Homo sapiens: one gene and its partners. The protein of the gene in region 2 interacts with the protein of the main gene of each other region in a pairwise test. Each region holds a gene or a part of one and is shown on either strand. Other genes may lie near its edges. The genes, in order: ZNF114, CENATAC, PPIL3 and NDOR1.

The links.
Region 1: the proteins of CENATAC (region 2) and ZNF114 interact in binary tests that used the Homo sapiens proteins (3 or more experiments, as listed by UniProt).
Region 3: the proteins of CENATAC (region 2) and PPIL3 interact in binary tests that used the Homo sapiens proteins (3 or more experiments, as listed by UniProt).
Region 4: the proteins of CENATAC (region 2) and NDOR1 interact in binary tests that used the Homo sapiens proteins (3 or more experiments, as listed by UniProt).

The regions. Positions count from the first base shown.
Region 1 is NC_000019.10:48,265,351-48,273,080, reverse strand, and holds the start of ZNF114 (zinc finger protein 114), read right to left. Parts: upstream 3,001-7,730; 5' UTR 2,862-3,000; exon of another isoform or gene 2,848-2,861; intron 2,179-2,847; exon of another isoform or gene 1,966-2,178; intron 1,861-1,965; exon of another isoform or gene 1,837-1,860; 5' UTR 1,632-1,836; intron 1,466-1,631; exon of another isoform or gene 1,355-1,465; 5' UTR 1,253-1,354; exon of another isoform or gene 1,249-1,252; intron 1-1,248. UniProt on the Homo sapiens protein: May be involved in transcriptional regulation.
Region 2 is NC_000011.10:119,008,135-119,015,156, forward strand, and holds part of CENATAC (centrosomal AT-AC splicing factor), read left to right. Parts: intron 1-2,629; coding exon 2,630-2,696; intron 2,697-3,086; coding exon 3,087-3,149; exon of another isoform or gene 3,150-3,177; intron 3,178-3,804; coding exon 3,805-3,869; intron 3,870-4,014; coding exon 4,015-4,120; intron 4,121-5,097; coding exon 5,098-5,128; intron 5,129-6,859; coding exon 6,860-6,949; intron 6,950-7,022. UniProt on the Homo sapiens protein: Component of the minor spliceosome that promotes splicing of a specific, rare minor intron subtype. Negative regulator of centrosome duplication.
Region 3 is NC_000002.12:200,872,076-200,879,097, reverse strand, and holds part of PPIL3 (peptidyl-prolyl cis-trans isomerase-like 3), read left to right. Parts: intron 1-2,060; coding exon 2,061-2,179; intron 2,180-7,022. UniProt on the Homo sapiens protein: PPIases accelerate the folding of proteins. It catalyzes the cis-trans isomerization of proline imidic peptide bonds in oligopeptides. May be involved in pre-mRNA splicing.
Region 4 is NC_000009.12:137,208,687-137,215,708, reverse strand, and holds part of NDOR1 (NADPH-dependent diflavin oxidoreductase 1), read right to left. Parts: intron 3,208-7,022; coding exon 3,110-3,207; intron 1,930-3,109; coding exon 1,831-1,929; intron 1,743-1,830; coding exon 1,641-1,742; intron 1,506-1,640; coding exon 1,296-1,505; intron 1,140-1,295; coding exon 1,018-1,139; intron 912-1,017; coding exon 691-911; intron 615-690; coding exon 507-614; intron 303-506; coding exon 188-302; intron 51-187; coding exon 1-50. UniProt on the Homo sapiens protein: NADPH-dependent reductase which is a central component of the cytosolic iron-sulfur (Fe-S) protein assembly (CIA) machinery.

The DNA of each region.
Region 1 (7,730 bases), on a different chromosome or scaffold from region 2:
GCTCACGCCTGTAATCCCAGCCCTTTGGGAGGCCGAGGCGGGCAGATCACGAGGTCAGGAGCTCGAGACCATCCTGGCTAACGCGGTGAAACCCCGTCTCTACTAAAAATACAAAAAATTAGCCGGGCGCGGTGGCGGGCGCCTGTAGTCCCAGCTACTTGAGAGGCTGAGGCAGGAGAATGGCGTGAACCCGGGAGGCGGAGCTTGCAGTGAGCAGAGATCGCGCCACAGCGCTCCAGCCTGGGTGACAGAGCGAGACTCCCTCTCAAAAAAAAAAAAAAAAAAAAAGCTCTTTCTCGTAAGAAACCAGTGCATCCTGCACGTCTGGCCCTGCCCAGGACTTTTCAGTTCACCCTCATCACAACAGGCTCCAATCCAATACTTTTTTTTTTTTTTTTTTTTTTTTTGAGAGAGAGTCTTGCTCTGTCGCCCAGGCTAGAGTGCAGTGGCACGATCTCGGCTCACTGCAACCTTCACCTCCCAGGTAGAAGCGATTCTCCTGCCTCAGCCTCCCAAGTAGCTAGGATTACAGGCGCTCGGCTCACTGCAATCTCCACCTCCCAGGTTCAAGCGATTCTCCTGCCTCAGCCTCCCGTGTAGCTAGGATCACAGGCGCCCGCCACCATGCCCGGCTAATTATTATTATTATTATTATTTATTTTTTTTTTTGAGACAGAGTCTCCCTCTGTCGCCCAGGCTGGAGTGCAATGGCTCGATTTCGGCTCACTGCAACCTCCACCTCCCGGGTTCAAGCGATTCTACTGCCTCAGCCTCCTGAGTAGCTGGGATTACAGGCGCATGCCACCACGGCCAGCTAATTTTGGTATTTTTAGTGGAGATGGGGGTTTCACCATGTTGGCCAGGCTGGTCTCGAACTCCTGACCTCAGGTGATCCGCCCACCTCGGCCTTCGAAAATGCTGGGATTACAGGCGTGAGCCACCGCGCCCGGCCAGCTCCAATACTTTCATGGATGCAAAGAACACAACCCCTGCAACCGCTGCATGCGGGCATCTCTGCTGCCCAAGCCCGGGGACAGGCGCTTTCGCAACGCTGCAGCACGGTATGGGGGAAGCGCCCTTCTCCCTGGGCCAAGGTGAAGGGCGCGCTCGGGGTCTGAACACGTGGGTCATTCGTGCCTTCCCCTTTCCTCCCGGAAGGGTAGAGACAATGAGGCTTTTGCAGACAGCAACTCTCAAGTCCCTGGGCCCCGGCCCGGTCCCGCCCTTAGTACGGACACTCAGGCACACTTACTCTTCCACTAGCTCCGGCTTCCAGATGTCTCTGTCGGTGGCGCAGCCCAAAAGCGCGCGCAGCCCAGGAGCGTCTCGGAGCTGCACCAGGATGGGGATCAAACTGTTGAAATAAATCAACCTAACGAGGCCGCCAGGAAGGACCGACTACAGAGATTCGTCCTGCCCAGACATTTTGTACTCGCTTCTTGACCCCTTCCTCAAAATGGACGGTGTAAGGGACCAGGGGGAGGAGAGGGGAGCCGAGCAGGCAGGGGATCCCAGCGCCCGCACTCCTGCCTGCCCACCCCCGTCCCACCCCCCGCCCCCGGGACCCGATCGACCCGACCCCAGAGTCTGACCCCCACGACCAGTAGATTGACATTTCCTGTAGAACTTACTCCCCAGGCACTCCTGATCCAAGCAGGAAACCCCAGCCTTGGGTCCTCGCTGTCGCCTCCGCCCGCGCCACCGTTCCTAGGCTCTCCAGCTGGGAAGCGCGCTCTCTGCGCAGCCAACGCGCCTCCTTGCGGGCTCCGGAGACTCCGGCCGCTTGCTGGCTTCCTGCATTTCCCAAGGAAAGAAGGCTTTTTTTTCCCCTCAGTACTGTAAAAGGGCGGAAACAGACAGGTTGGGGAGTCTCCAGTTTCTCTCTTGTCCCCATTTTTATGTTTTTGCTACCACTCCCCCCCATCCGTTGACTAGCGGCTAAACCGCAAGGCTCCCGTCGCCTACCCTTGAAATGATTTTTTTCTTCCTTCCTTCCTTTCTTTTCTTTCTTTCTTTTTTTTTTTTGAGACGGAGTCTCGCTCTGTCGCCCAGGCTGGAGTGCAGTGGCGCGATCTCGGTTCACTGCAACCTCCGCCTCCCGGGTTCATGCCATTCTCTCGCCTCAGCCTCCGAGTAGCTGGGACTACAGGCGCCCGCCACCACCCTGGCTAAGTTTTTGTATTTTTAGTAAAGACAGGGTTTCAGCGATCTCCTGACCTCGTGATCCGCCCGCCTCGGCCTCCCAAAGTGCTGAGATTACAGGCGTGAGCCACCGCGCCCGGCCCTTCTTTTCTTTTCTTTCTTTCTTTCTTTCTTTCTCTTTTTTCTCTTTTCTTTCTTTCCCTTTTTTCTCTTTCTTTCTTCTCTTTCTTTCTTTTCCTCTCCCTCCCTCCTTCCTTCCTTTTTTCTCTTTCTTTCTTCTTTTTCTTTCTCTCTCTCCCTTCCTCCTTTTCTCCCTCCCTCCCTTCCTCCCTCCCTTCTTTCTTCTCTTTCTTTCTTTCTTCTTTCTTTTTTCTTTCTCTTTCTTCCCTCCCTCCCTTCTTTCCTTTCTCTCTCTCCCTCCCTTTCTCTTTCTTTCTTTCTTTCCTTCCTTCCCCCCTTCCTCTCTCCCTCTCTGCCCCTCCCTCCCTCCCTTCCTTCCTTTTTTATTTTTTTCCTTTTCTTATTCTTTTTTTCTTTTTTTTTTTCTGAGACAAGTTCTTGCTCTGTCCTTCAGGCTGGAGTGCAGTGGCGCAATCTTGGCTCACTGCAGCCTCAAGCGATCCTACCACTTCAGTCTCCCAAGTAGCTGGGACCACAGGCACGTACAAGGCATGCCTGGCTAATTTTAATTTTTTTTTTTTTTAGAGATGAAAACTCACTATGCTGCCCAGACTCGTCTCGAACTCCTGGGTGTCACGCGTGTCCGTATAGAAGACCACCTAAACAGGCTTTGTGTAAGCAACAAAGGCTGTTTATTCACTTGGGTGCAAGTGGGCTGAGTTGGAAAAGAGAGTCAGCGAAGGGAGATAGGAGAGGGGCAGCTTTATAGGGCTGGGGTAGGCAGTGGAAAGTTACAGTTAAAGGTGGTTATTTGTTGTCAGCAGGGGAGGGGCTCACAAGGTGCATTGTGGAGAGATCATGGGACTCATTGTCCAGGAGAAGAATGTCACAGGGTCGACTGATCAGTTGGGGCAGGGCAGGAACAAGTCATAATGGTGGAATGTCATAAGGTGGGTTAATCAGTTAAGGCAGGAACTGGCTGTTTCACTTCTTTTGTGGTTTTTCGGCTGCTCCAGACTTCTTGGCTCCTGCAGGCCATCTGGACGTATATGTGTAGGTCACAGGGGTTACAATGGCTGAGCTTCGGCTCAGAGGCCTGACACTGGGCTTAAAGTGATCCTCTGGCCTTGGGAGGCTGAGGTGGGCAGATCACCTGAGGCGAGGAGTTCAAGGCCAACATGGCGAAACCCTGTCTCTACTAAAAATACAAAAACGAGCTGGGCATGGTGGTGCATACCTGTAATCCCAGCTGCTCGGGAGGCTGAGGCAGGAGAATCGTTTGAACCTGGGAGGAGGAGGTTGCAGTGAGCTGAGATAGCGCCATTGCACTCCAGCCTGGGTGACAGAGCAAGACTCCGTTTCAAAACAAACAAAACAAAACAAAACCCAAAATGACTGCCTAAACCCAGACCTCTAGGACACAGACTCAGTTTCCCACCCTGACTCTGCTTAACTGGGGAGTCGCTTGATCTTCAGGTGCCCCTGATGCAAATCAGCTGAACAAAGCGTTTATCCTCTACTCGAGTTACATCGTTTCTTTTCCTTTGAGGGTCCCCAGCAAACCTTGATGTGCATCTCTTTTTCTTTTGGTTCTTTGGGAGGAAAGATTAAGCCCAGCCCAGCCAGCTCCTGGAGCTCCCCAGGAAGGAAGGGCTGGGAGTCCCTATCTGGTCAATTAAATAATTTATTTATTTATTTATTTTGAGACGGAGTTTCGCTCTTGTTGCCCAGGCTGGAGTGCGATGGCGCAATCTCAGCTCACCACAACCTCTGCCTCCCGGGTTCAAGCAATTCTCCCACCTCAGCCTCCCGAGTAGCTGGGATTACAGGCACACGTCACCATGCCTGGCTAAGTTTTGTGTCTTTAGTAGAGACGGGGTTTCTCCATGTTGGTCAGGCTGGCCTCGAACTCGCAACCTCAGGTGATCCACCTGCCTCGGCCTCCCGAAGTGCTGGGATTACAGGCATGAGCCACTGCACCCCGGCCTAAATAATTTATTTTTTATGGACTGTCTTTCTTCACTCTAGTAATGAAATTCTACCATAAAGCTTAAATTGCCAAATATTGATCATACTTACCCCAGTTACATTTTTTTACGGTGATAAAATATACATCACAAACATTTCCATGTGAACCATTTTTTTTTTTTTTTTTGTGACGGACTCTCCCTCTGTCACCCAGGCTGAGGTGCAGTGGCACGATCTTGGCTCACTGCAAGCTCTGCCTCCCGGGTTCACGCCATTCTCCTGCCTCAGCCTCCTGAGTAGCTGGGACTACAGGCATCTGCCACGCCCAGCTATTTTTTTTGTATTTTTAGTAGAGATGGGGTTTCACCATGTTAGCCAGGATGGTCTCGATCTCCTGACCTCGTGATCCACCCACCTCGGCCTCCCAAAGTGCTGGGATTACAGACATGAGCCACCGTGCCCGGCCTCCATGTGAACCATTTTAAAGTGTACACTTCAGTGGCATTAAGTACAGCCACATCGCTGTGTAACCATCATCACGATTCATCTCCAGAACTTTGTCATCTTTCCCAATTAAAACTCCGTACCCGTTAAATAATCACACCCCATTCCCTTTTTCTCTCAGTCCCTGGTAAGCTCTGTTCTACTTTCTGTGTCCAGGAATTTGACTGTTCTAGGAATCTCCTAGAAGTGGAATCACTCGGCCTTTGCCTTTTTGTGTCTGACGTATTTAATTTTGCACAATGTTTTCCAAGTTCACCTACGGTGAAGCATGTATCAGTATTTCATTCCTTTTAAAGTCTGAAAAGTATTCCACGGTATGTAGTGTTCAAAAGTAAAATGTATGGCTGGGCATGGTGGCTCACACCTGTAATCCCAGCACTTTGGGAAGCTGAGGCGGGCGGATCACCTGCGGTCAGGAGTTCAACACCAGCCTGGCCAACATGGTGAAACCCCGTCTCTACTAAAAATACAAAAATGAGCCAGGCATGGTAGTGCATGCCTGTAGTCCCAGGTACTCGGGAGGCTGAGGCGGGAGAATTGTTTGAACCTGACGGGGAGAGGTTGCAGTGAGCCGAGATCGTGCCACTGCACTCCAGCCTGGGCAACAGAGTGAGACTCTGTCTCAAAAAAAAAAAAAAAAAAAAAAAAGTACAATGTGACATAAGAAAATTTCTGACCTCGGGCTGGGGGCGTTGGCTCACACCTGTAATCTCAGCACTTTGGGAGGCTGAGGTGGGCGGATCACCTGAGGTCAGGAGTTCAAGACCAGCCTGACCAAAATGGAGATACCCCGTCTCTACTAAAAATACAAAATTAGCCGGGCGTGGTGGCGCATGCCTGTAATTCCAGCTACTCGGGAGGCTGAGGCAGGAGAATCGCTTGAACCTGGGAGGCGGAGGTTGCGGTGAGCCGAGTGTGCCATTGCACTCCAGCCTGGGCAACAAGAGCGGAACTCCATAAAAAAAAAAAAGAAAATTTCTGACCTCTTCCCCAAATAAACTACCTGCACGTAAGCCCTCATTTCAGGCTCTCCTTTTTGGAGGCTCCCAAATTATGACCGAAGGAGTCCAAGGACTTGAGAAGAACCCTGTTAAACCTTGGTTCAGGTCTGGGCTCAGGGCACTAAAGGATATTCCTCTTGCGACCTCTAGTGGTTGTAGGTGTCCAATTCCCTTCTATTTTCTCTGGGTCTTCATCTCCAGCAGTGCTTCCCTTCCCTTGTTTTCTCATCCTCTCCCTTCAAAAACCTGCTTCTTGGCCAGGGGCGGTGGCTCACGCCTGTAATCCCAGCACTTTGGGAGCCTGAGGCGGGCGGATCACGAGATCAGGAGTTCGAGACCAGCTTGGCCAACATGGTGAAACCCAGTCTCTACTAAAAATACAAAAATTAGCTGGGTGTGGTGGACGCCTGTAATCCCAGCTACTTGGGAGGCTGAGGCAGGAGAATCGCTGGAAGCCAGGAGGCGGAGGTTGCAGTGAGCCAAGATTGCGCCACTGCACTCCAGCCTGGGTGACAGAGCGAGACTCTGTCTCAAAAAAAAAAAAAAAAAAAAAACCCACAAAAAACCACAAAAAAACCTGCTTCTTTTCTGGTATCCTCAATATCCCGTTTCACCTATGCCTTCACTGCTAGGTGGATCTTTTTAAAGAAAATTGGGAACATTATATTATTTCACCTGTAAAAATATCACTACGATGGCCAGGTACAGTGGTTCATGCTTTGAGAGGCCGAAGTGGGTGGATTGCCTGAGCTCAGGAGTTCGAGACCACCCTGGGCAAAATGGCAAAACCCTGTCTCTAAAAAAAAAAAAAAAAAAATTAGTCAGGCGTGTGGTGCACGTAGTCCCAGCTACTTCAGCTACTTGGGAGGCTGAGGCGGGAGGATCACTTGAGCTCAGGAGGTGGAGGTTGTAGTGAGCTGAGATCTTGCCACTGCACTCCACTCTGGGTGACAGAGTGAGACTCTGTATCAATAAATAAAAAATAAAAAATAAAAATATCACTATGTATGTTTAAAAGATGAAGAGTTAAAAAATGCTTTACTGTCTTACATGAATACTCCCTTACAATGAAAAGTAATCATCATTCAGGACATCATAAAATATCCCGTTAATGTTGTCATTTCCCTGGTTCTTATTTTTACTTTATTGCTTTGCATAGAGATACAAATCATCCACTATAATAGGTTTTTGTGTGTGTGTGTTAATTCTTTGTTAATCTAAGTTGCCACTTATTTAATTCCATCCCCCCATTCAAACATTGCTATTGTTGTAGAAAGTAGGTCATTTTTTCTGTAAAATTTTCTTTGGTTTCAGTTTTGCCAATTAGATCCTTGTGTTGTCATTTAACATGTTTTTCTTTCTTTCTTTCTTTCTTTTTTGAGACGGAGTTTCGCTCCTGTTGCCTAGGTTGGAGTGCAATGGCGTGATCTCGGCAAACTGCAACCTCCGCCTCCTGGGTTCACACCATTCTCCTGCCTCAGCCTCCCGAGTAGCTGGGATTACAGGTGCCCACCACCAGGCCCTGCTAATTTTTTTTGTATTTTCAGTAGAGACGTGGTTTCACCATACTGGCCAGGGTGATCTCGAACTCCTGACCTCAGGTGATCTGCCCGCCTCAGCGTCCCAAAGTGCTGGGATTACCAGCGTGAGCCACTGTGCCCGGCCTTGGTTGCCTGTTTTTATGGTTATTTCTTCATGATATGGTAACCAAGGGGTGGATTATTCATGCCTTCCCTTTTTGGTCCACATAGGGTAACTTCCTGACGTTGCCATGGCATCTGTAAACTGTGATGGAGCTGGTGGGAGTGTAGCAATGAGGACCACCAGAGGTCACTCTCGTCGCCATCCTGGTTTTGGTGGGTTTTGGCCGGCTCCTTTACTGCAACCTGTTTTATCAGCAAGGTCTTTATGACCTGTATCTTGTGCCGACCTCCTATCTCATCCTGTGACTTAGAATGCCTTCATCATTTGGGAATGCAGCCCGGTAGGTCTCAG
Region 2 (7,022 bases):
TATTTCTAGTCGGGTGGGATGAGAGACGGAGAAAAGAAATAAGACACAGAGACAAAGTATAAAGAAACAACGGTGGGTCCAGGGGACTGGTGCTCAGCACACCAAGGACCTGCACCGGCACCGGCCTCTGAGTTCCCTCAGTTTTTATTGATTATTATTTTTCATTATTTCAGCAAAAAGGAATGTAGTAGGACAGCAGGGTGATAATAAGGAGAAGGTCAACAAATTACATGTGAGCAAAAGAATGTATATCACGATTAAGTTCAAGGGAAAGTACTATGCCTGGACGTGCACGTAGGCCAGACTTATGTTTCTCTCCACCCAAACATCTCAGTGGAGTAAAGACTACAAGGCAGTATCACTGTAAACATGTCTCGCCTCCCGCCACAGGGCAGCTTTTCTCCCATCTCAGAGTTGAACAAATGTACAATCGGGTTTTAAGCCGAGACATTCAGTTCCCAGGGGCAAGCAGGAGATAGTGGCCTTCCTCCATCTCACCTGCAAGAGGCTTTCCTCTTTTACTAATCCACCTCAGCACAGACCCTTTACAGGTGTCGGGCTGGGAGACAGTCAGGTCTTTCTCATCCCACGAGGCCATATTTCAGACTATCACATGGAGAGAAACCTTGGACAATACCCCGCTTTCAAGGGCAGAGGTCCCTGCGGCTTTCCACAGTGCATTGTGCCCCTGGTTTATTGAGACTAGAGAATGGCAATGACCTTTACCAGATGTACTGCTTGTAAGTATTTTGTTAACAAGGCACGTCCTACACAGCCCTAGGTCCCTTAAACCTTGATTTTATACAACACATGTTTTTGTGAGCTCCAAGTTGGGTCAAAGTGGCTGGGTCAAAGTGGCTGGGACAAAGCTACAAATCAACAACATCTCAGCAAAGCAACTGTTTAAAGTACAGGTCTTTTTCAAAATGGAGTCTCTTATGTCTTTCCTTCCTACATAGACACAGTGACAGTCTGATCTTTCTTTCTTTTCCCTACAACTTATTATTATTTTTGAGACAGAGTCTTGCTCTGTCACTGGCCTGGAGTGCAGTGGCCCGATCTCGGCTCACTGCAACCTCCACCTCCGAGGTTCAAGCAATTCTCGTCTCAGCCTCCCAAGTAGCTGGGATTACAGGCACCTGCCACCACATCTGGCTAATTTTTTGTGTTTTTGTAGAGACAGGGTTTCACTATGTTGGCCAGGCTGGTCTTGAACTCCTGGCCTCTTGATCCACCCGTCTCGGCCTCCCAAAGTGCTGGGATTACAGGCGTGGGCCACACCGCGCCTGGCTTAAATGATTTTTTAAAACTAAGTGGCTTAATATTCTGCAATTTTAATCTGAGAGGGGTGGAACAGAAAGCCCCATACCTCATCAGAACCTGGGAGTTGATGAGAAACCATTTGATGACAACCTCCTAGGGGAGATGGGGAGGGAAGTGGGAGATGGCCTCATAGCAGCTTCTGGCAGACCTTCCACCCTCGTGTTCCAGGAGGATTAAACAAGCCTTTCAGCCACAATTCGGTAAGGTGTGGCTCAAGCCATTGTCTCCTTGGATATATTCAAGGCTCTCAGGGAACACTGTTGATAGTGGTATTGGTATTATACTGAAACTTTGTGTTGAGAACCAGGGTTTTGAGAACCAGGGTTTTCACTATGGCAAAAGGAAGATACAAGTAAGGAATGGAGGCATTTGAATAGGGAGGTGACAGTACAAATTACTGATTTAAGGCCAGGCATAGTGGCTGATGCCTGTAATCCCAGTTCTTTGGGAGGCCAAGGCAGGAGAATTGCTTGAGCCCAGGAGTTCGAGACCAGCATGGGTGACATGGCAAAACCCTGTTTCTACAAAAAACACAAAAATTAGCCAGGCATAGTGGTGCTGTCCTGTAGTCCTACCTACTCAGGAAGCTAAGGCAGGAGGATCTCTTGAGCCTGGGAGCCTCTTGAGCAGAGGTTGCAGCGAGCTGAGGTTGTGCCACTGCACTCCAGCCTAGGCAACAGAGCGAGCCCGTCTCAAAAAAAAGACAAAGAAATTTAGGACAGTATGCAAGATTTGGCCTGGATTCTTCTGAGGATGTGAAGTAATGGAAACAGTAAGACTGTTCCAGACTAGGGGAAGACTAGAGACCTAATAGCTGGATTCCATGTGATCTTTTGTTGGACTTTGGGATTGGAGGTGAGAGTAGAGAAGGCATAATGCACGTTTTTGAGACGAGGGAAATGTGAATATAGCCTGTATGCCTACACTCAAGTCTGAAGACATGTAAACCATGTCTATACTAACCAGCCAAATATTTGAACACTAAAAGGAAGAATTTTCTTAATGTGGTAATGGTATCATGGTTGTATAGAATGTTCCTCCTCTTGGGAGATGTGTGTTGAAAATAGGGTTTGACGTCTAAACCTATTTTGTTTTGGCAAAAAGGACGTGTGTCTGTACAAAAGAAGTGGAGCCAGTATGGCAAAATGTTTACAAGGACTCTGGGTGAGAGGTACATAGGTGCTTACTATACTGTTTTGTTTCTGAATTTGGAATTTCTCAAAATTAAAAAAATATCTACTGAGGAGCTTTTCGTTTTAACTGGTGGGGAATGGGTTCTGGGTGGTTTTGCCCCTTTTCTTTTTAGATTCAAGAAATCCATGGTGAAAGGTTTGGATTCCTATGAAGAAAAGGAGGATAAAGTGATCAAGGAGGTAAGTTAAAGTAGCAGTCCCTCACCCTTTTTGCACCAGGGGCTGGTTTCGTGGAAGACGGTTTTTCCACAGATGGACCCAGGCAGGGGATGGTTTCAGAATGAGACTGCTCCACCTCAGATCATCAGGCACTAGATTCTCATAAGGAGCACGCAACCTAGATACCTTGCATGCCCAGTTCACAATAGTGTTTGTGCTCCTATGAGAATGTAACACCACCACTGATCTGACAGGAGCTCAGGCGGCAGTGCTGTTGCAGCCTGCTTCCTGACAGGCCACAGACCAGTACTGGTCCACGCCTGGGGGTGGAGGGCCCAAGTTAAAGGAAAGGCCTCTGAAGAAACTGGCCCCCATGATCCTGTACCTGTCTAAGCAGCCTCTCTCCCACAGATGGCAGCTCAGATCCGTGAGGTGGAGCAGAGCCGACAGGAGGTGGTTCGGTCTGTCTTAGAGGTTGGTTTCCCTCGGAGGATCCAGACCAGTATCCAAATCCACTGATCCCTGGCATTCCCAGGTCCAGCATTTCATGGACTAGTGCTTCTTCTTCTTCTTTTTTTTTTGGAGACAGAGTTTCGCTGTGTCACCCAGGCTGGAGTGCAGTGGCACGATCTCGGCTCACTGCAACCTCCACCTCCCAGGTTCAGGTTCAAGCGATTCTCCTGCCTCAGGCTCCCGAGTAGCTGGGATTACAGGTGCCGCCACCACGCCTGGCTAATTTTTATATTTTTAATAGAGGTGGTGTTTCACCATGTTGGCCAGGCTGGTCTTGAACTCCTGACCTCAGGTGATCCACCCGCCTCAGCCTGCTGGAATTACAAGCATGAGCCACTGTGCCCGGCCATGAACCAGTGCTTCTAAGAGAACTCTGACTGCATTCTCATCTGCTTGGCTTGAATTCCCTTACCTGTGTGCCAGGGGGCAGGCCTAGTCAGTGAATATGTGGACAGGACTGGGAGGGAGGGAGGGAAGAGTCTGTAAAAGATGGGCAGTACCTTCCATATGCTAATTTGTTTCCTTCCTGTGATACTGGGGTCTGGAGGGTGGAGGCATGGCCTAGGCAGGCTCTTAAGCATCCCAGACACATTTATTTTTCCTGAATCAAACTCAGCCTCAGGCAGTGCCAGACCCAGAAGAGGGCTCTTCAGCACCTAGAAGCTGGAAAGGGATGAACAGGTAAGACTATTAGGGAATCTCTTGTTGGGAATTTGACATCTTAGAACATTCTGCAACCTTTTGCCTGGGAAATGGAAACAGATCTAATCTTTACCACCCTCATGGCTCAAGGACCTCATCTGGCAGCCTGGCTCATGTTTTTCAGCCAAGTAGCTTCCAGCTTACAGCAGCCCTCAAATTTGGACCTGCCACCAGCTCCAGAGCTTGACTGGATGGAGACAGGACCATCTCTGACATTCATTGGCCATCAGGTACAAAGGATAAGCAAGCCAGAAGAGGGCCAATGGTCCCTCAGGTCTCAGGACCCCTTTCTCCTGATTTTCTACCTATTCAAGCCACTGCTGCCTCCACTGCAGGCTTTTCCTTCTTCCTTCACTGTTCCCTAGTAGTGTTCTCAGACCTCTTCTCACCCTCCAAAGCGATCCTATTCACATGTATTGACACTTAGGAGTGCCAACTCCTAAATCTTGCCCTCTGTAGAACTCATAGTTCCAACTCAACACAGGACATTAAATATCCCACAGGCATCTGAAACTAACCCCCACCACTCCTATATTTCCAATCACTAGATGCAGATCCTTTCCTTTTCCATCTCCCATATCCTGTCAACAAGCGGTCAATTTTAACCTGTCTGCCTCCATTCAGCCTTTGGGCAATTTCTACTCCCCCTTCAATCCTGCCTCACAAACAGAAAATCATTGTACCACTTATGATTTTACTCTACACTTCAGCTGTATTGTGTTGCTTCGGGCTTTTGCAGTTGCCATTGTCTAAAACCTGCTTTCCTTCCCTCATCACCTAGTTTACCTTCAACTGTTAGCTCAAATGTCACTTTTTCATAAAAGGCTTATCTGAACAGGTTATCTCTATTTCAAGTGGATGTAGCACCATGTAAAGTTGCAAATGTAATTTACGTAACTTGTGCTTAATGCTCTTCCCCAATTATATGTATGCTGTGAGGGCAAGGTTTTGCTCCCCTGGCATGTAATAGCCACTCTACTTACAGACATCTCCACTGTTATGACTGTGAGCTTCCTGAGGACAGGGTTGTCTTAGAGTGACTTACTGTGCTTTCAAAGTTTAACATCAGCTGGGGTGCAGAATTAGCATTGTGGCAGCAGTCACACCCACCTCTTTTAAAGTGTGCTTTGTCTATCGTTTCTAGGATTTTTTTTTTTAATCATGCCTAGACTTTAACTAGCACTTTTTTTCCCATTTCCAACTACAGGATATACCAGGAGTTGGTAACATCCACTCAGGTAAGGTCCAGGGCAGTGTTTTTAAAACCCTGGGAGATTTTTTTTTTTTTTTGAGATGGAGTCTTGTTCTGTCGCCAGGCTGGAGTGCAGTGGCGCAATCTCAGCTCGCTGCAACCTCTGCCTCTCAGGTTCAAGTGATTCTTCTGCCTCAGCCTCCCAAGTAGCTGGGGTTACAGGTGTGCACCACCACACCCAGCTAATTTTTTTTTTTTTTTTTTTGAGACGGAGTCTCGCTCTGTCGCCCAGGCTGGAGTGCAGTGGCGGGATCTCGGCTCACTGCAAGCTCCGCCTCCCGGGTTCACGCCATTCTCCTGCCTCAGCCTCCCAAGTAGCTGGGACTACAGGCGCCCGCCACTACGCCCAGCTAATTTTTTGTATTTTCAGTAGAGACGGGGTTTCACCGTTTTAGCCGGGATGGTCTCGATCTCCTGACCTCGTGATCCACCCGCCTCGGCCTCCCAAAGTGCTGGGATTACAGGCATGAGCCACCGTGCCCGGACTTTTTTTTTTTTTTTAAATAAAGTTGGCCAAGATAAAGCGTATGTATCGGTAAAAGCCTTATATCCAGAATATATGAAGAACTGTCAACTTGATAAGGAAACAACCCAATAAAAGCATATGAATAATGTTCAACATTAGTCATTAGAGAAATGCAAATTAAAACCACAGTGAAATACCACTACATATGTATTGGAATGGCAGAAATTAAAGACTGATCATGCCAAGTGTTTGGCAGTGTAGAAAAACCAAACCTTCATACACTGCTCTTAGAATGTAAACTGGTACAGTCACTTTGGAAAACAGTTTGGGATACACCTACCACATTATCCAACCGTTCCACCCCTAACTAGAGAAAAGAAAGCCTGTCTACATAGACTTGTACACAAATCTTCAGAACAGCTTCACTTGTAGCAGCTCCAAATTGGAAACAATTCAGATGTCTATCAACAGGCAAATGGATTAACAATGGAATAGTATTCCAGGATGAAGACAGAATTATTGATACGTACGACACAGATGAATCTCAGAAGTCCAGACCTGGCCGGCGTGGTGGCTCATGCCTGTAATCCCGACACTTTGGGAGGCCAAGGCAGGCGGATCACGAGGTCAGGAGTTCAAGACCAGTTTGGCCAACATGGTGAAACCCCATCTCTACTAAAAATTCAAAAATTAGCTGGGCATCGCAGCGCACGCCTGTAATCCCAGCTACTTGGGAGGCTGAGGCAGAATTGTTTGAACCGAGACCTGGGAGGCGGAGGTTGCAGTGAGCTGAGATTGTGTCCAGCCTGGGCTAGAGCGAGACTCCTCTCAAAAAAACAAAAGGCCAGACCCCACCTCAATGTCCACACACAGAAAATCCTAAAAAATACAAACCAATAAAGCAACTGAAAGATCACCGATTGCCTGGACATGAAAATATTTTAATGGGGGCAGTGATACTTACAGGGGGATGTTTGGGGTCTAGATTGTAATGGCTTCGCTCAAAAGTCACCAAATTTAAGTGTGTATCGTTTATGTCAGTTGTGCCTCAAAGCCATTTTAAAATGACTGTCACATATGGGGTATGTCGCTTTAAATTAGCCTAGGGCCTTCTAAAGCTCCAGAATTCCTGGGCTTTGCTTTTAGACATTTCTAGCTCTTAATGAGGAGAGGTAAGCTAACAGCTAGGACATGTTTCACAATAGCCTGAAGACTTAAAAAAAAAAAAAAAAGCCTTAATTTTTTTTTCAGGTGCCACACCTCCCTGGATGATCCAAGATGAAGAATACATTGCTGGGAACCAAGAAATAGGACCATCCTATGAAGAATTTCTTAAAGAAAGTAAGTAAACTAATTCAAGAGAGGATCGTCTAAATCTTCACACTCAAAAATGGTTTCCTTGCCTGTGTGTGGT
Region 3 (7,022 bases), on a different chromosome or scaffold from region 2:
CAAGATTGTGGATATGTATTGACTCTTCATATATTCTGGCCCAGGAATTCCATTCCCAAATGTTTACTCAAGAGAAACTTGTAAGTTTGCACCAAGAGACATGTACAGGAGTGTTCTGATGTACTGTTTGTAATAGCAAAAGTCTAGAAACAACCCAAATGTCCACTGATTGTAGATGAATCACTATGTAGATTGTGGATAAATTGTAGTATATTCAGTAGTGAAATATCACATAGTAGTAAAAAAATAGTAATAAACTATGGCTATATGTACATGTATAACCTTAGAAATGTAACAATGTTATTTGTAGAAAGCATTTCCCAGAAGACTAAAATGTTACGATGTAATTATATTCAGAAGGAAAAGGAAAGAATGTGTTGTTTAGGCATGTGTAAATGTGTTAGGGCTGGGCACAGTGGCTCACTCTTATAATCCCAGCACTTTAGGGGGCCGAGGTGAGAGGAACAAGTACTTGAGGCCAGGAGTTTGAGATCAGCCTGAGCAACATATTGAGCCCTCATCTCTACTAAAAGTTAAAAAATTAGCCAGGTATGGAGGTGTACATCTGTAGTCTCAGCTACTCAGGAGGCCAAGGTGGAAGGATTGCTCAAGCCTAGGAGGTCAAGGCTACAGTGAGCTATGATTGCACCACTGCACTCTAACCTGGGTGACAGAGTGAGACCCTGTCTCTAAAAAAAAAAAAAAATGAAAAAATGAAAAAAAAAAGGTATTAGAATAGTGGTTACCTCTTGTAGAGGCTGAGGTAATAAATGGAGAGGAGCACATGGATATATGTAATTAATTGGTAACTTTTATTTTTTCTTGAGCTCCCATTATTCAATGAATTGGTAAATTTTAACTCTGAAAGCTGGGAAATATGTTAATGGGTGCTTATTTTATTAACTTACATTTTTATTAACTATATTTTTGTGTATGTATTAAATATTGTGTATGTATTAAATATTACATGTGTATTTAATATTACATTTGATTGGTGGACACCTTTTAGGGAGACAAGCATTAATATTTTGATATAGGTGCTTCTCTATGACTTATTAGCGTCACCCAATGAATAGCTAAAGCTAGAGTAATTGGTGGAGTTGTAGTGTATTACAGGCACCTCCCTGTAACATAGTTCACAGTTACATCTTCATTCTTATCAGTAAGGTCCTTTTAATTTCTATACACTGTCTCTTGTAAACAAATACTATCATGATAGTAGAGCTAGGTGAGACCTTTCTTAGATCGTTCAGTCCTGGGGTTATAAACTGACTGCCCATGAGTGGAACACCCACAGATGCATTATCTGTGGCCCTTAGTTAAAAAATATATATTTAATGTCATTAATCAAGAGATAGCCTATTCATTTTGCCAGACTTCATCTCTCTCTAATGTTTACATTCTGCCCAATTGTCAGTTTATCTGCTTGACCCTTGTGAGCATCTGAGTTATAAATAGACCCTTGAACTAGTCCAGCCTCCCTTGTTTTACAGATAAAGAAACTAGCAAGAGTCCATTGTATGTGAGAAGAGATTGTGGGCATTTTGGTTTTGTTGCCTGCCTGATCATTTCATTCCAGCACACTATTCCTTAATATAAATGTAAGGATTATTTCTATTATTTGTTGGTATTGCAAAAAGTGTCCATGGCTGTATTTCTTCAAAGTGAAAATGAAATTAATTGAGAAATATTATTTGATATATTAACCTTTTACATACAAGTTTTCAAAGGTACAGAAAAGGCAGAAACTGAACATTTGGATTATCCCTAATAGAGAGAAGTTGGTTAAATGTTTTCTTGCTCCCTTAAATATTGTGAAGGTAAAGATTGAATGTCTTGGCTGGGTGTGCTGATTCACACCTGTAATCCCAACACTTTGGAAGCTAAGGCAGGAGGATCACTTGAGCCTAGGAGTTAGAGACCAGCCTGAGCAACATAGTGAGACCCCAATCTCAAAATATTTTTAAAAAAGAAAACAAAGGTGTGCCTGTCTTGTTTCAATACTATATTTGGGATGGTTATATAAAAACACAGTTAATACTTTGATGTGTCTTTTTCAGCACAATGTTAGAGGTGTTGTATCTATGGCTAATAATGGCCCGAACACCAATGGATCTCAGTTCTTCATCACCTATGGCAAACAGCCACATTTGGACATGAAATACACCGTATTTGGAAAGTGAGTATTCTGGTTATGGTTTTCTTTTAGCATTTCAATGCAAGTGGTGCATATGCTTAGCTGTGACAGTAGCATAACTAATATTGAAAAGAGTGAGGCCGAGCGCAGTGCCTCACACCTGTAATCCCAGCACTTTGGGAGGCCAAGGTGGGCAGATTGTCTGAGGTCAGGAGTTCGAGACCAGCCTGGCCAATGTGGCAGAACCCCTGTCTCTACTAAAAATATTTTAAAAAATTAGTTGGATGTGGTGGCACACACCTGTAGTCCCAGCTACTCAGGAGGCTGAAGCAGGAGAATTGCTTGAACCTGGGAGGCGGAAGTTACAGTGAGCCGTGATCATGCCATTGCACTCCAGCCTGGGCGACAGAGTGAGACTCTGCCTCAAAAAAAAAAAAAAAAAATGAAAAGAAAAGAAAGAAAAGAAGAGTGGTGTGAGAGCTAAACGTACCTGGAGTTTAAGTCTACCACTTAGCAACCCTGTGACCTTGGGAAAGTTATAATCTCCCTGAGCTTTATTTTCCTTATTTTGTAAAAGAGGCCAGTAATTTTTCAATATTGTTATGCAAATTAACATAGTATATCTATTTTCTTTTTCTTTTTCTTTTTTTGAGACGAAAGGCTCTGTCGCCAGGCTGGAGTATGGTGCAGTAGCACAGTCATGGCTCATTGCAGCCTCAACCTCCTGGTCTCAAGTGATCTTCTCACCTCAGCCTCTTGAGTAACTGGAACCACAAATGTGTACCATCATGCGCAGCTACTTTAAAAAAAAAAAAAACAAAAAAAACACTTTTTTTTTAGAGACATGGTCTCACTATGTTGCCCAGGCTGGTCCATTTTCATTAATGATAGCATTTCACAGCAACTAACAGATCTGAAAAATAGTGGCTTAAACAAGATGGACTGGCATGGTGGTTCCATTTTGTTACCAGTGTTCTAGGCGCCTCTGTCATAATATTGGCAGCACAGCTCTTATCAAAACTTCTGTGTATCAGGGAGGAAAGGGGAGGAAAGACAAAAGGTGCTTGCCAGCTGATTCACCTTTTTTAATTAACAGAACTTTCCCAGGCCTGTAATCCCAGTGCTTTGGGAGGCTGAGACAGGAGGATCACTTGAGGCCAGGAGTTCAAGACCAGCCTGTGGAACATAGCAGAACCCATCTCTATAAAAAAAATTTAAAAATTAGCCAAGTGTGGTGACACACACCTGTAATCCCAACTACTCAGGAGGCTGAGGTGGGAGAATCACTTGAGCCCAGGAGTTCCAGGCTGCATGAGCTGAGATCACACTTCTGTACTCCAGCCTGGGCAACAATGATACCCTATCTCTAAAAAAAAAAAGATAGAAAAAAAGAAAAGCCGGGTGCGGTGGCTCACACCTGTAATCCCAGCACTTTGGGAGGCCAAGGAGGGCAGATCATGAGGTCAGGAGATCAAGACCATCCAGGCCAACATGGTGAAACCCCATCTCTACTAAAAATACAAAAATTAGCTGGGTGCGGTGGTGCGTGCCTGTAATTCCAGCTACTCAGGAAGCTGAGGCAGGAGAATGGCTTGAACCCTGGAGGTGGAGATTGCAGTGAGCCAAGATTGCGCCACTGCACTCCAGCCTGGTGACAAAGCGAGACTCCGTCTCAAAAAAAAAAAACTTTCCCAGAAGACCCAGAACTTAGTAATGTGACCACTCCTTACCTACAATGGAGGGTAGAAAATGTATTTCAGCCACATTGCCACCCTTACTAAAATTAGATTTCTCCGAGTAAGAAGAATGGCTCCTAGGAAGGTATTTCACAGTTTCTGCCAGGGTATCTATTAAGAGTACTATGTCTGGGAGTTGCTTTTATAAATCAGTGGGAAGTCAATTTGTCTGTTCGTTCAACAAATAATTATCATGCTTAATAAACCAAGGCACAATTCTAGAGTTTGTTCTATTTAATAGTTTGGATGCCAAATTAGGTTAATTAAAAATAGAGGACTCCCAGTCTAGGTAACATAGTGAAACCCCGTCTCTACAAAAAAATTTAAAAATTATCCAGGTGTGGTGGCTCACACCTATGGTCCCAGCTACTTGGGAGGCTGAAGTGAGAGGATTGCTGGGCTCAGGGTGTCAAGGCTGCAGTGAGATCTAGACAGATCTTTTCTTTTTCATTCCATATACATGTATCTAATTTACACATTAATAATAATCAAGGAGAAAAGAAATATTACAACATCTAGTAGTTTTTTTATGTTTGTAAATAACCCAGTTTCCCTCTTATTTTCTCCCTTAACCAACATCATTCAAAATTATTGTTCAGTTATTACCAGGACTCATTTTACTGGATTTGCGACAAAACTGTAGAGTTTAGAACAAAGATTAACCTTAGGTTCATTAATTCCTTGTTTGTTGTATACAGATGCACACACATTTTTCTGGGAAGATGATCCAGTAACTTTCCTCTAGTTCTCCAAGGGGTCCGTTTCCCATATACTTGACTCTACTTAACTGCCTCAGTTCTACCTGCTGGGTTTTTTTAACTTTTTACCTGAGACCTATGTTTTCTACCTCCTCTGTTTCTCTTACTGACCTAGAAGGTGGGATAGCCTTTAAGACTTATAATTTAAAGACTTAAATGTCTATATTTAGGGGTAAAATCAAAATGTTTTGGTTGAAGTACCCATTTTGTGAAAATGCAAAATAAAATGCAAATCTGCTAATTTTTTTTTTTTTTTTTTTTTGAGACAGAGTCTCACTCTGTCGCCCAGGCTGGAATGCAGTGGCGCCATCTCAGCTCACTGCAAGCTCACCCTCCTGGGTTCACGCCATTCTCCTGCCTCAGCCTCCCAAGTAGCTGGGACTACAGGCGCCCGCCACCGCGCCCGGCTAATTTTTTGTATTTTTAGTAGAGACGGGGTTTCACCATGTTAGCCAGGATGGTCTCAATCTCCCGACCTCGTGATCCGCCCGCCTTGGCCTCCCAAAGTGCTGAGATTACAGGCGTGAGCCACTGCGCCAGGCCTACAAATCTGTTAATTTTTTAAAGTACATACCAGTGGTTGAGAATCCCTAATCTGAAAATTAAAAATTAGGAACTTTTTGAGCACTGACATGATGCCACAAGTAGAAAATTCCACATCTGACCTCATGTGACGGGTTGCAGTCAAAATGCAGTCAGATGACCAGGTGCAGTGACTCACGCTTGTAATCCTAGCACTTTGGGAGGCCAAGGCGGGCAGATCACGAGGTCAAGAGATCAAAAGCCACTCTTTCTTAGCAAATGTTTTAGACTGAAATTTCCAAAACTTGTATTTGAAGAATAGCTCTCAATATATTTTTTCTTGGTGGTAACATGAAGTGGGATTGCTGGAGGCTGTTAACTGTCAGTCTTCTCTTCTCCTATTTTTATTACTTCTTGTTGTTATCCAGAAGCAAAAAGTAGAAATGCCATAATTAGGCCAGACGTGGTGGCTCATGCCTATAACCCCAGCACTTTGGGAGGCTGACGTGGGCAGATCACTTGAGGTCAAGAGTTTGAGACCAGCCTGGCCAATGTGGTGAAATCCCATCTCTACTAAAAACACAAAAATTAGCTGGGCATGGGGGCATGTGCCTGTAGTCCCAGCTGCTTGGGAGGCTGATGCAGAATTGCTTGAACCTGAAGGAAGAGGCTACAATGAGTCGAGATAGTGCTACTGCACTCCAACCTGGGCAATGGAAGTGAGACTCCATCTCAAAAAAAAAAAAAAAGAAAGAAATACTATAATTAAACAATTAACTGCTGGGCTTGGTGGCTCATGCCTGAATCCCAACACTTTGGGAGGCCAAGGCGGGCGGATCACCTGAGGTCAGGCCAGACCAGCCTGGCCAACATGCTGAAACTCCGTCTCTACTAAAAATACAAAAATTAGCCAGGCGTGGTGGTAGGCTCCTATAATCCCAGCTACTTGGGAGGCTGAGGCAGGAGAATTGCTTGAACCCAGGAGGAGAGGTTGCAGTGAGCCGAGATCACACCATTGCACTCCAGTCTGGGGGACCAGAGCGAGACTTCATCTCAAAAAAAAAAAAAACAAGTACAAAGTGGAGTGGTCACCTACTTTAGGACTCTCATTGTAGGGCAGTATTGCTAATAGTGTCATCTACATACTTTCTCCATGTATTTCCTGTAGCAAAGAAATCTTTATGACTAGTGTGTTGTAATAAGACATACATATTTGGACTTCATCCGTGGTTTCCAGCATAGTTCTTTTAAAAACCTTGCAATTTCCTGAGTGACAGGAGTGAAAGGAATATTTTATTGTTCATAATAAACCCCATTCAACCATACCTGAGTTTATGCTAATGAGGTGACTCTTGGTGGGGTTCTAGATAGCTTCAGTATGGAGGGCTGGTTGCCAGAGGAATCAGCCATGTATTTTTAGAGGGGTGGAACATTCAGTGACCTCCTATTCTTGACCTCTGGGAAGGAGAGAAGGGCTGGAGATTGAGTTCCAGTCACTAGTGGCCAGTGATTTAATTAATCGTGCCTACCTAATGTGCCCTCCGTAAAAACCCTAAACAGGGTTTGAGAGCTTCCAGGTTGGTGAACACAAGTAGATACTAAGAGGGTAACACACCCCGAGAAGAGCATGGAAGCGCTGTGCCCCTCTCTCAGACTTTGCCCTATGCATCTCCTCCATTTGGTTGTTCCTGAGTTGTAACCTTTATAATAGCCCATAGTAATAAATAAAGTGCTTTCCTAAGTTCTATGAGCCATTTTTGAAAATTATTGAACAGAGCTGGGGGGCATGAAAAATCCCAAATTATATCATGGTTAGTCAGATAGTACAGATCACAATCGGGACTTGGAACTGGCATCCGAAGTGGTAGG
Region 4 (7,022 bases), on a different chromosome or scaffold from region 2:
TGGGAAGGCCAGACTCCCAGGCCGCACCCAGAGGGGCACCCGGACAGGTCCTATTGCAGGAAGGAGGTGGCATGAAGAGGATCAAAGACCTGTGCTGAGTCTGCTGGGGCCCTAGCCCAGCATTTGCATGAGCATGGGAGAGAAGGGGATATGGGCCCACGGCCCCCACCCTGGGAGCAGGGGTCACCTTGCCCAGGGTCCAGGGATGCCAGCCAGGAGGAGCAGAGGCCCCGGCGGGGCTCCTTGAGGCGAGTCTGGAACTGCACTACAGCCACGAGGATCTGCAGCCGTGAGGGGTGAGTCTGGGGAGGACGGCGGGGTGGGGGTGGTGGAACAAGGCTGCCCTCACCTGTGCCTGGGCCGTGGGCCCCACCTACCTCCCGCAGAGGCAGTCCGACTGGGGGAACGTCACCTGGTCAGAGGGCAGCCCCTGCTTACAAAACCCCACAGCCCCGGTCCCAGCTTTCCCAGGGCCGGTCCTGGGCTCCAACCACCAGGCCCCTCACCAGCAGCGAGGAGGCGATGGAGAAGGCCCTCGGCCGGATAACGGGGATGAGGTCCAACAGGTAGTCGGGAGGGATGGCGGCAGCTGTGTGCGGGAAGTCACAGAGCACCTAGGCAAAGAGAGTCTCAGGGTGGCTGCAGCGTGGCTGTAGCTCAGGGGCTGGGCCTGCCGCCCTCCCATCTCACCTCCAGGATGGTCCTGCGGGGCCGGTTGCAGTATTCAAAGAGCTCCTCCTGGCCTTGGGCAGAACTGAACTCCAGCAGCTTCTCCCGCTCCAGCTCATGGAGGGATAGACAGGCCAGGAGTTCGAAGAAGGAGCGGCGAGGCACGCTGGCGATGTCCAGGTAGTGGGACACGAGGTGCCGCATGGAGCAGGGCTGGGGCAGCCTCGTGGGGGAGGAGACATCTGCAGGGTGAGTGGGAGGCCTCCGTGGGCTGCGGCGGAGCCCTTGGGGTGGGGGCCCAGGGCACGGGAGAGGGCAGAGAGTCAGGGTGGCCGAGGCTGGGCTCACCTGGCTCCCGCGGCTGCAGCATGAAGAGCTGGTCAGGGTCCAGGCCCAGCACCTGGCAGAACCGCTGGACATGGGCAGCCGAGTTGGAGGGCTGAATCAGCACCACATCACCAGCAGCAAAGCTGTGTGGAAGAAGCCACCAGGGCTGTGGGGACGCCGCAGGGAGGATGTCGGGGCCCCGGATAGAAGTCATCCCCTGCAGCCCGGCCCAGCCTCCTCCGAACCCCAGACCCACGGCCCACCTCACCTTGCCCTCCTCGGTCCCCAGCAGTCCCCACCTGATGCCAGAGCCCAAGATGTCAAACTCAATCAGCCGAACGTCCTGGAAGTGGGAGGGGCCGGTGACTCTCTGGTTGGAGATCATGGGTGCTAGGAAGGGCTTCGACTCTGACGGGGGCTCCTGAGAGCCGGGGTGAGCTACCCGCTGCCCCTCAGAGCCCGTGCTGGGTGCCTCTTGGAGGAACAGCAGGGTGAACTTGGAGGGCAGGCTGTGGGAGGGCACGCTGGTCAGACCAGGACCCACTCCCCAGGGGCCGCCCACCCACACGGGAGGGACCCAGGGCGAGGTCCCCAGGCCAGGTTGGGTCTGCTGCGCCTGTGGGTGACCCGGGGCCCACACTCACGGGACTCCGGGAGGGATCTCAGTGAGGCCCGGAGGCGGCGGGTACAGCCCCAGAACCCTGTCCCACAAGTCTCGCAGCCAGGGGTCCACAGCAGCGTCGGGCCTGGGAGGGAGCACGTGCGCTGGCCTGAGCGGACCCTGCGTGTGGCCAGACCAGACTGTGGAGGCGGGTACCACGCCCGCAGACTCACCCCAGCTCATGCTGGTCATCGCCCAGGCACACGGGCAGGAGGGCGCTGCCCCCAAGCTGCAGTAGCCGTCGGTGCAGCTTCTTGGCCACGAAGTTGAACCTGTGGAGACAGTGAGGCTGGTCCTGGGCTGGAGCCCGGGCGGAGAGTGGTGCCCAGGCAGAGTGGAACCCGGGAGAGTGGAGCCCGGGCGAAGAGTGGAGCCTGGGGAGGGCCTCCCTCGGGTGGAAAACACACTCCACGCTGGCCGCACCCTAGGAGGGGGCAGGGCCTCCACACGCCAGGGGCTGCCGAGACCAGGGCAGCTGCCAGGGTGCCAAGCAGCAGGTCCTCTGCTCGCAGAGAATGAGCCTGTGTGGGTGGGAGCAGGCGGCCTCGTCCCACTGATGGGCCCTCATCCCTGGGCAGGGACTTGAGGCAGCTGAGGCCTCCAGGCCCCCAGCCAAGATGTGGGTCACTCCTCAGCTGAGAAACTCTGTGCTGGGGAGAGAGCCAGGCATCTTCCCGGGGGTCAGTTTCTCTTCTCACTCTGGTTCCGAGGCATGACTGGCTCTGGGTCACGCTCCTCCCTGGGAACGCTGTCGGCAGCGGCCTCCCTCCCTCTCTTGAACGAACACTGTGTCCCACACAGAACAACGTCACGCAGGAAACAACGTCATGCACGGACCTACGTCACGCACGGAACAAAACCTCCCGGCAGAACCGGGGGGAGCTGTCTCCGATCTTCCCGTTCTTTTTCATCTGAAATGACTGACACCTGGCTATGCAAACGGCTTTTGATGCTCGGTGCTCAGCGGACCTGGGCCCTACGTGGACAGTCGGGGTTTTCACCGTTGTGGGGTCTAAAGATGCCATTTGCACACTGAACATGCCACTCCTTGCTTAGGGTGCAGAGGAGCACTGTGAAAATGCCCAGGAGAAAAGGCAGAGGTGGCCTCTGGGGTGGCAGGAGCATACGGGGTCCTCCTCCAGGCTCAAAGTCGTCAACACTTCACAGCACGCCTTTTTGTAAAAGTGGGGACCGGCGCCAGGTAGGCCTGTGTGACGTCAGCGTGGCTGGAGCCCAGCCCTTTGCCACCCTGCCTGCTCCCCTCTGTGCCCTCCCCGCAGCGTGAAGCCTGGGGTGCCCACCAGGGAGCGTTGTGGAGAAGCCAGTACCACTGCGAGGGCCCTGAGGCGCGCAGGGGCCGACCCTGGAAGCTGGTCTCGGTCCTCTGCCAGCACACCTGTTGCTCGACCCCCAGAACTGTTCCGTCCGCCCACTGTCCCATCCCCTACTCACTTGGCGTATGAGGAGTCCCCGAGGCCCAGGACGGCAAAGTCCATCTGACAGAGGGCAGTGGAGGGCAGGTTCTTCCGGAATATAAACCTCCAGAAGTTCTACAGCCGGAGGAAACTCTGAGTCAGAGTCCTCGACCTCTAGGCTAGCCCCACAGCAGGGGGTGAGGGGAGGGTCTCAGGGGAACAGGCAGGTGGGTAGGATGGGGGCAGAATACAACTGGACCTATCTGACCAAAAGGCAGGGCCCAGGTCCAGCCTGCAGGATGATGGGCACCGGGAGGAGGCAGGGCTGGTCCAGCGTCTAGGGAGACCAGGTCCCACCCTGCCCACAGGAGCCAGACCCTGCTGTGCTCTACAGGCCTGCGTGGAGCTTCCTTCCTGGGACATCACCCTCCTCTGCCCCAGGCTCTGAGCTGCCAGGAGCAGCTCTGCACTTGGTCTCCAAACTGTCCACCGCCCCAGGGGTCCCTCACCTCCACCTGTCATTTCCCAGCCAGAGCGTGGGCCTCCACTCCCTGAGTTGGTCTGTCCCAGAGGCTCCTATACTCAGACCTCTGAGGTCCATCCCAAGGGCTCTCACACTCGGCCCTCTGAGGTTCCAGTGTCGCTGAGACACATCCCCCTCCTTCCGTGGCTGCAGGACCTCGAGCCAACAGGGTCCAGATCCTCTGGTTCCACACCGTGCCTTCCACGGTGTCCTCCCAGCTTGATCAGAGGCCCCCCCAAGGAACCTACTGCCCCCTCCCTACCTGGATCCCAGGTGGCCTGTGTGCGTGGTCTTCGCCGCCCACCCACCTCCCCTTCCCGTGGCCAAGCATGGAGGCTAGCAGACAGGGAGGCCCTGGCCTTGTCAGCCCACAGCTCTGACCCTGGCCCTGGACCACCCCTGGCCTCCCGGGACCTCACTGCCTCATCAGCTGCCTCTCTGGGCCACGCTATGCGAGCAAATGTACCCAGCCTCTTGCCCCCGAGACCCTCCCTAGCGCCCTGCTGTTGAGACACCCTTGCTTCCTGAATCCCAAAAGACTCTCTTCCCTGCTCCGTTTGGTGAACTTCCTCCTTCCCGAGAAAAGGGTTCTGGAGAGAACATTCTTGTGACTTTTCCCTCACTCGACTGGCATGCGGCTGGGTCTGTCCTGGGCTTGGCACCACCACTGAAAAGCCAGGGCCCCACTTGCTGCCCTTGGGGTGTGTAGGGCACTCTGTCCCCAGAGGCTAAACCCACAGTGACATGCCCCGGGGGTAGCCCTTTCATTCTCAGCAGGGCCCTTCCTGGGCATGGGGCTCTCTGGCCGCAGACCCCGCTCTAGACATCATTACTTTCCTGGATAACTTCCTCTCCACCATTGTCTTCTCATTCTGAGGCCACTGGAATTATCTTCGAATTTTGGTATCTGCTTCCTTCCATTTTCTATCTTGCTTTTTGTCATACTTTCTAGAAGGATTTCTCATCTTTTTTTGAGATGGAGTCTCACTCTGTAGCCCAGGCTGGAGTGCAATGGTGCGACCTCAGCTCACCGCAACCTCCGCCTCCCAGGTTCAAGTGATTCTCCTGCCTCAGCCTCCCAAGTAGCTGGGATTACAGGTGCGTGCCACCATGCCCGGCTAATTTTTGTATTTTTAGTAGAGACAGGGTTTCACCATGTTGGCCAAGCTGGTCTCGAACTCCTAACCTCAAGTGACCCACCCACCTCGGCCTCCCAAAGTGTTGGTATTACAGGCGTGAGCCGTCGTGCCCGGCCTTTTTTGTTGTTGAGACAGGGTCTCATTCTGTCATCCAAGCTGGAATGCAGTCTTGAAATCACAGCTCACTGCAGCCTTGACCTTCTGGGCTCAAGCGATCCTCCAACCTCAGCCTCCCAAGTAGTGGGGATTACAGGTGTGTGTCACCACGCCCAGCTAATTTATTATTATTTTGTTTGTAGAGACTGGGTTTCGTCATGTTGCCCAGGCTGGTCTCAAACTCCTGGGCTCAAGCGATCCTCCCACACCTTGGCTTCTCAAAGCGCTGGGATTCCAGGCTTGAGCCACTGTGCCCAGCGTCTTCTAATCTTTTAAAGTTTTTTCATGTCCATTTAAAGAACTATTTCTGGCCAGGTGTGGTGGCTCACACCTGCAAACCTAGCACTTTGGGAGGATGAGGCAGGCAGACTGCTTGAGCCCAGAAGCTTGAGACCCCATCTCTACAAAAAATACAAAAAAAAAAAAAAATTAGTTGCATGTGGTGGTGCGCACCTGCAGTCCCTGCTACCCAGGAGGCTGAGGTGGGAGGATCACCTGAGTCTGGAAGGTCAGGGGGCAGTGAGCCGTTGATGGCTGCCACTGCACTCCAGCCTGGGCAACAGAGCAAGAGCTCTGTCTCCAGAAAGAAAAAGAAAAAGAGAAAGAGAAAAAACTGTTTCCTGTTCCTGAGTCTCCAGCTTTGCCCCGTGGGGGTAACATCCTTGGCTGCTTCAGCCTGTGCCCGTCTCTGCCTGTTATGCGGGTCTTTCCTCGGGTGGGGTGTGGTTCTTTCTGGTGCATGTTTTCACCCAGGCTGGAGTGCAGTGGTGTGATCTCGGCTCACTGCAACCTCCACTTCCTGGGTTCAAGTGATTCTCCTGCCTCAGCCTCCTGAGTAGCTGAGATTACAGGCATGCACCAATACACCCAGCTAATTTTTTGTATTTTTAGTAGAGATGGGGTTTCGTCATGTTGGCCAGGCTGGTCTCAAACTCCTGACCTCAGGTGATCCACCCGCCTCGGCCTCCCAAAGTGTTGGGATTACAGGCTTGGGCCAGCGCGCCCAGCGCCCCATGGGTTTCTTCACCAGACAGGCAGGGACCTGGTCACTTGGCCTTTCACTGTGGTTCCTCTGTTTTCTCCTGTCTGCTGCTGGGGGCACCTGCCTCACCTACAGCATCCTCAGCAAGGAGCCAGGGTCTTCCTGTTTCGCTGTGGATGGAGAGCCAGGGTCCTCTGGTTTAGCTATGGATAGCCACTAAGACTCGCCCCTGCCTCTGAGGCCATGGGCCCTGGGTCCACAGCCTCTTCAAGGAGCTCCCAGTTCCCGCTGTGGGCATTAGCTGCCCCCTCCAACTCCTGGTCTTCTCTGTGGGTGCCCACACTTGGGACTCTTCGTTTCCTCGTTGACCTGAATCCCGGCATTAGCACCAGCTTCCTGCCACTGGCTGACTGAATGCCCAGCCCAGCCTCAGTCCCTCTCCTCTCCCATGCTCTGGGGCTTCCCTATCCCACCATTCCCCTCCCGTGCCTGTGCTCCACTCTGAAACCCCTTCTCTTCCATCCCACTCTATCTGAGACCCCTCGACCTATGTTCAGCTCTCCCCCAAGCCGCTGCACATCCCCTGCCATACCTACTCAGTCTTCAGCCTCTTTCTCCTGTCTCTCCCCTGCCAGCAATTAAACATGCCAAGTTTTGGCCGGGTGTGGTGGCTCACGCCTGTAATCCCACCACTTTGGGAGGCTGAGGCAGGTGGATCACGAGGTCAGGAGATTGAGATCATCCTGGCTAACACGGTGAAACCCGATCTCTACTAAAAAAATACAAAAAATTAGCTGGGCGTGGTGGCGGCGCCTGTAGTCCCATCTACTTGGGAGGCTGAGGCGGGAGAATGGCGCGAACCCGGGAGGCAGTGCTTGCAGTGAGCTGGGATCAACGCCACTGTACTCCAGCCTGGGCGACAGAGCGAGACTCCGTCTCAAAACAAACCAACAACAACAACAACAAACAACAACAAAAAAAACATGTCAAGTTTCTCCCGTCTTTTTTTTTTTGAGACAGGGTCTTGCTCTGTCGCCCAGGCTGGAGTGTAGTGGTGTGATCACAGCTCACTGCAGCTTTAACCTCCCAAGTTCAAGAGCTCCTCCCGCCTCAGCCTCTGGAGTAACTGTGATCACAGGCATGAGCCACT